Regions from separate parts of the Homo sapiens genome. Here region 2 is linked to region 1. The links come from fine-mapping of genetic effects on gene expression. Tissue or cell type: sun-exposed skin. Region 1 holds a variant in brackets; the other region holds the start of a gene. All regions are shown on one strand. Distances are from middle to middle.

Region 1 (2,903 bases):
ACTAAACCAGTGTCCACTCTGTGCCAGGACTTGTGCCGGGAGCTGTACAGATAATTCAGACCTAGCCTCCCAGTGCCACCAAATTGCCTGACTACAGGAGTCCATCCACGTTGTTTTGAGTGAACAGTGTCCCCTGGAGTTTGTAATTCGGTGACTCTATCCTTGCCCTCAGGGAGGGCAATGTGACAGATGGCAAGCTGTAGGCAACCCAACCAAGGCTCGTCAGGGCCATGCTAAAGGAAAGCGGAGAGGACAGCAGGTGCCCCAAGAAGGGACCTAAACTTAATGGGAGATACCAGGAAAGGCTTTCCAAGGCTGATGTTGAAAGTGGGAAGTTCATCAGGCAGAGAAAGCAAGGGAGGACAGGTTTGAAGTGGAGTAAGTACAGCATGCACCAGTGCATGGACACAGGAAAGACATCTGAGGCTGGGGTGACGGTGATGGGGTCTTTACCTGCCTGGGTGAAGTCATAGAGAGAAAAGATTGAAGATGAAAAAGGAGGGATAGAATGAGAAGGGCCTGGATGTTTTGTTCACAAGGCTAAATTGTATCCCAAAGAAGACAGCCAGAAAGGGTACCGGGCAAGGAGGACTTGGGGTTTAAAAGGATATCTCCAGGACAGCATGGAGGTCGGGTCAGAGAGGGTAGATCAGAGACAGGAGACTTTACAGTTTAATAAACCATTCAACCTGGAGAAAGGGAGGTCGGGACTTAGGTGGCGGTGGACTAAGGACATGACAGGAGCCATAGGTTGTCAGGGAGCTGGAGCCCAAGGTACAGGATGGGAAGGCTTTGCTATGGATCCCAGCCTTTCTAGGGCTGGGTAGTGGGAACCTCCCAAAATTGGAGTTCGGGTTAGGAAATCCTCACATGCAGTTTGGGAGAGGCTCAGGAGGAGGAACCTGAGCCATGTCCTCTGTTCTGCAGTGAAAAGAAGATTAAATATGACCACTACTTGATCCCAAACGCCCTGCTGGAGCTGGCCCTGCTGCTTATGGAGCAAGACAGAAACGAAGAGGCCATCAAACTTTTGGAATCTGCCAAGTAAGGCTTGGGTAACCTCAGTCTGTCCTTTGCTCCCTCTGAACTCAGCTCAGGAGCTGGCTGGGGACAGAGTTGCCCAGAGAGCAGTGAGTGGAGTTGCTAGCAAGGCCAGTCTGGCAGTCTAGAGGGTGGACCTGTGTCCCTCGGAATCCAGCTCTCGCCTGTCATAGGAAGACTTCTTTCTTAATGTATAAATGCGCAGTTAGACTCCCAGAGGCAGGAAGTAAGTTCCCAAGGTCACATCAGAAGCCAACTGCATGGCTGTGTGAGGACCCATGCCTCCTGCCTTCCAGGGTAGGGGTCTATTCCCTAAAACCACCCCTTCAAGCTTAGGAACCCAGGAGGACCAGGAGTGGTTCCAGTGGCCATGATACCAGGGATGAGGGGCCACAAACCCTTCTGGTTAACTCTCCCATTGGGTAGGGCTCAACTCTCTCTGGACACATTAATTTCTCTACAATCCTTCCTTGGCTCGCGGGGCTCATACAGCTCAAACAGGAGGAAAAGCATCTCTGGGAGCAGGCAGCCTCATGTGTCTGATTCGCTGCTCAATTCCAGGCAAAACTACAAGAATTACTCCATGGAGTCAAGGACACACTTTCGAATCCAGGCAGCCACACTCCAAGCCAAGTCTTCCCTAGAGAACAGCAGCAGATCCATGGTCTCATCAGTGTCCTTGTAGCTTTGTGCAGCAGTTC[C/T]GGGCTGGAAGACAGAGACAGCTGGACAGAGCTCCTGAAAACATTTCAAAATACCCCCTCCCCCTGCCCTGCCCTGCCTTTGGGGTCCACCGGCACTCCAGTTGGATGGCACAACATAGTGTATCCGTGCAGAAGCCGAGCTGGCATTTTCACCAGTGTAGCCAAGGGCCTTTGCCAAGGGCAGAGCAGGTGGAGCCCTCTGCCTGCCCTATCACACATACGGGTACTTGCTTTTCACTGTGATGTTTAAGAGAATGTATGAACAGTTTACATTTTCCTTAGAAATACATTGATGGGATCACAGTTGGCTTTAAAAACCAACAACAATCAACCACCTGTAAGTCTTTGTCTTCACCTATTATCATCTGGAGGTAAATCTCTTTATATGATGATGCCAAAGGGCAAATTGCTTTTCAAATTCAGCAAGTTCTCAGCTTGTGTGACGGAAGGTCCTTCAGAGGACCTGAGGAATGCCTGGGAGAGGCTAAGCCTCAGGCTTCAATGCTTCTGGGGTTGGGCATGAGGATGTACACAGACACCCACTACCTTACTACTCACACTTCATTTCACTCCTTTTGTAAATTTCCAATTTAAAAATCAAGCACGTCTTTTTAGTGAGATAAAATCTGAGCTCTTCTGTAGAAAAATCAATCTCTACCAGTAGAAAATGCCAGGGCTTGATGGAAGAGCTGTGTAGCCCTTTCTATGCCAAAGCCAGGAAATTTGGGGGGCAGGAGGAGGTTCTCAGAATCCAGTCTGTATCTTTGCTGTATGCCAAACTGAAACCACTGGGAATAATTTATGAAACATAAAAATCTTCTGTACTTCACTCCAAGGTACATTTGCTTACTGACAGCATTTTTGTTAAAACTGTTATTCTTGACCTGTTGTGTATGCGTTAGATTCTTCAGTTAAGAGAAAAGAGATATTTAAGTGATAAAATTTATGCCCTTAAGGGATCGTGCATCATGTATTTCAATAAAATATGTGTTGCATGAATCCTTAGGCCAGGCAGAAAGTCTTGATCAGAAGCCACACGGCCTATGTATGTTTTATTTAGACCACACAATGTTTTAAACTTTTTGAATAAGTTACCAGCATTCACAAATGGGGAGATTTTACAGATGAATCTGGTTCCTGGCCTGTAATTTAAAAACAAAC
Region 2 (2,903 bases), 42 kb before region 1:
GAGCATCTGCCCCTGCTCACAAATGGGCAGGATGGGACTTCACTGCCTTTCCAGGCAGCCTGCTTAGATTTTAAGCAGCTACCACCAAGCCCAAACTGCCTGGCTCCCCTGGGATCTGGTACAAGTCCTGTTCCCACCGTGGTTGCTTCTGCAGGCTGTCCCCTTCTGCTTCCTCTTCTGACGTCCTGGAGGTCATAGTTGCTCCAGGGGAGCTACAGTCCTTCCTTACTTCTGTCCCCTCCTTTGTGAAGGGACAGCTCTAATGGCAGCCACATGCTCTGATGAGTCATGGTTAAGAGCAGCATCTGGGGCCAGGAGATGGTGACTGGTTAACTCTTCATGGGCCAGTGGCTTTCTGTGCCAGAAGATCAGGTCAGGTGGAGACACCGCCTCAGGGCTCGGTGCACAGTGGACATTTGGGGAGCGTTGTGGGTGACCCCCACACAGGCACTGGGAATGCAGGGGAGAGGGGGCCAAGGGGGAAAGGGGCCAGAGTGTTGGCTTTGGATTCAGGAGGGATGGATTCCAGTCCTAGCTTGCCACTTATTAGGTGAGTGACCATGCGTGAATCAAATGAACCCCATGCCTCAGTTTCCCCATCTGTAAAATAGCAATTATGGGGATCATTTGAGAAGGCAGTGTGAACTGCCAGCTAGCAGTGAGTGCTAAACCGTGTTTTCCCCGCCTTCTGGTCTCCTGCAGTCACTCAGTGGGCGAGATGGTGGGATTAAAATCCAGGCCTGACTCTGGGGGCTGTCTTTGTCTGCACGAATGCCCCCATTAATGCGGGAGGATGGTGACGGCTCAGGTGGGGGCCGCTTCGGGGCGGAAGCTGTGGGGAGGAGAAGTGACAGTAAAGTGGACCTCAGGTCCCGGAGAAGAACTTCTAGCGCCAAATAGGTGGGGACGTGTGAGGAGGGAGCGAGCTCCCGGCCCGGGCGGTGTCTGCGCAGAGGGCGCCGGGCTCTCACCTGTCGGAGCGGGGGTGGGGGCCGCCCAGAACCCCCGGCGGTGCGGGAGCGCGGGTCGCCGCGGGCGGCCATGGCCCTACGGTGCGGGTGGGGAGACCGAGGCTCGGCCCGGCCCCGCCGCCTTCCCCGCCCCCGGCGCGCCCCTCCCCGGCCGCCGCGTCCGCGACCGCACAGCGCCCGGCTCGGGGTTGCGGCGGCAGCACCTGGGCCGCGATTGGCGTCCGGCTGGGGCAGCGCCGCCCGCGCCCCTCGGCGATGACCTCGGCTGGCGGCGCCCCAGGAGCCCTGCCCGCGGGGTAAGTGCGCGGCTGGGAGGCCCGGGGGCGCGGGCGGCGCGGGCTGGGGCCCGGGCAGGTGGCGGGCGCCGCGCCAGGCCTCCCCCCGCGCACCGGCCTGGGGCCGCACTGCGGCTTCCAGCCCCCACCCCGCCCGGCCCCTGGCAGCCGCCGCCGCTGCCAGGAGTGGGGGCAGGGGGCTGTGAGGAGGCGGAGGCGCGGGGACCCCGGGTCGGTCACTCACCTTCTGGGTCCCAACTTTCTCACGGAGCTGTAGTCACAGACACGTTCAGAGCAGCCTTCCCCACCTGCCTCGTGGCGTTCACTCCTGTGGGGTGGGCCCTGTTACTCTCATCCCCATTACAGATGAGGAAACTGAGACACAGCACTTAAGTGACTTGTCATCGGTCACCCAGGAGGTAAGAGTTGCGGGTGGGATTTGAACTCAGTTCTGTCTGTTGTCAGATCCCCCCACCCCATCATCTTCAGGGACATTAGGGGAACTTAAACAGCTAAGGTATGGGCCAGCCGGGCCCATTGGGTGCAGCAGGAACCTGGGTAGTAAAAAGTGGGTGTTGTCACCTTCAACGTGGCTCTCCTGCCCAACCCTACCCACATCCCACTGAGAAACCCCTATAGGACCCCTACCTAGATCACCCCCCGTAGCAGTGACAGCCGCTACTGCCGGGAGACCTTCAGCAACTCTCTGCTTTTCCTGGGCCCCAGTGGGCAGGGCAGGGGGCAGCTGCTAGGAGCCCTGACTGCTGGGAGGTTGCTGGGCAGAGAGCCGGCCCAGGTGAGCTGGGAGGAGGGCTCACCCTGCCTGGAGCCTCACCACCAGTGACAATATTTGCTAAGGGCCCGAGGCTTGACACATGAACAGGGAGGTGACGAGGCTGGTGCCAGCTGGCAGCTGGAAGTCTCCACAGGGCTTGCGTGTGTGTGGCTCTATCAGGGCTTGGAAGCTGGGTTGCTGGGGGACACCCTGGCCTGGGAGAGGGTTGCCTGGTGAGTTTCAGCTTCATCATTTTTGTTGTGTGACTTTGGCCAAGTCCTTAACCCTTCCTAGACTTCTGGTCCCTCCTTTGGAAAACACAGAAGTGGGGCTGGCTGTTCCTTTCCTGTTCTGGGCTCAAGTATTTGTAAAGCTGGAGGTTGGGTAGGTTCCTTCTGTGCAGCCCTGACTGAGCACCACCACCCTGCTGGGTCCAGAAAAGTGGTTTCCAGGAGAGAAGGCGGGCATGGAGCAAGGTATCTATCAAAGAAGTCTAGACTCCCTGGCTGAAAACCACATTCATCCCACTTCCTTATATGCTTACATCCCTGCCTAAGTGCCCTCTACAACCCCGGGCACCTCTGGCCCTGCTGCAGGCCTCAGGACAGCAAGCTTGCTCTTCTCACGCTGGTGGGTCTTCCTTATGCAGAACCGTACCTGCCTCTCTGCATGCCTGCCCACTCTTCTTTGAAGCCACCTGTCCATCTGTCCCCAACCCTGGCTAGTGTCATCCTGGTGGGGTCTGAGCAGAGGAGGGCCGCACGCAGCAGGACCATTCTCACCTTCACTACAGAGACACTCACTCAACAGACACTCAGCAAGGCCTGCTCTGGGCCCAGATGGTCATTGGTGAACAAATCAAGCCTTAAATCTCTACCTTTT

Which allele goes with the higher level. Positions count from the first base shown, and alleles are read on the strand shown. Sizes are in standard deviations (SD) of each study's normalised expression.
As copies of C replace T in region 1, the expression in sun-exposed skin of the gene that starts at base 1,142 in region 2 goes up (small effect, 0.19 SD a copy in GTEx).

What was found. PIP is the estimated chance that this variant, and not a neighbour inherited with it, causes the effect.
Region 2: it holds the start of TTC39A, and the variant in region 1 is fine-mapped to the expression of TTC39A in sun-exposed skin (GTEx, PIP 0.98).

What each region holds. Positions count from the first base shown.
Region 1 is chr1:51,286,980-51,289,882 of GRCh38, reverse strand. TTC39A (tetratricopeptide repeat domain 39A) reads left to right here. Exons shown (of 18, transcript NM_001297663.2): 17 at 928-1,044; 18 at 1,603-2,625. The coding sequence ends at 1,726. Among named protein-coding and RNA genes, the nearest start is that of TTC39A-AS1, 41 kb to the left of the region's middle. The variant C/T (reference allele first, on the strand shown) is at 1,743.
Region 2 is chr1:51,328,801-51,331,703 of GRCh38, reverse strand. TTC39A (tetratricopeptide repeat domain 39A) reads left to right here and starts at 1,142. Exons shown (of 18, transcript NM_001297663.2): 1 at 1,142-1,267. The coding sequence starts at 1,227. It overlaps TTC39A-AS1 (TTC39A antisense RNA 1), which reads right to left and starts at 2,050. Exons shown (of 3, transcript NR_123731.1): 1 at 1,895-2,050; 2 at 1,491-1,574; 3 at 423-832. RefSeq lists an enhancer at 233-282 and a silencer at 1,100-1,169.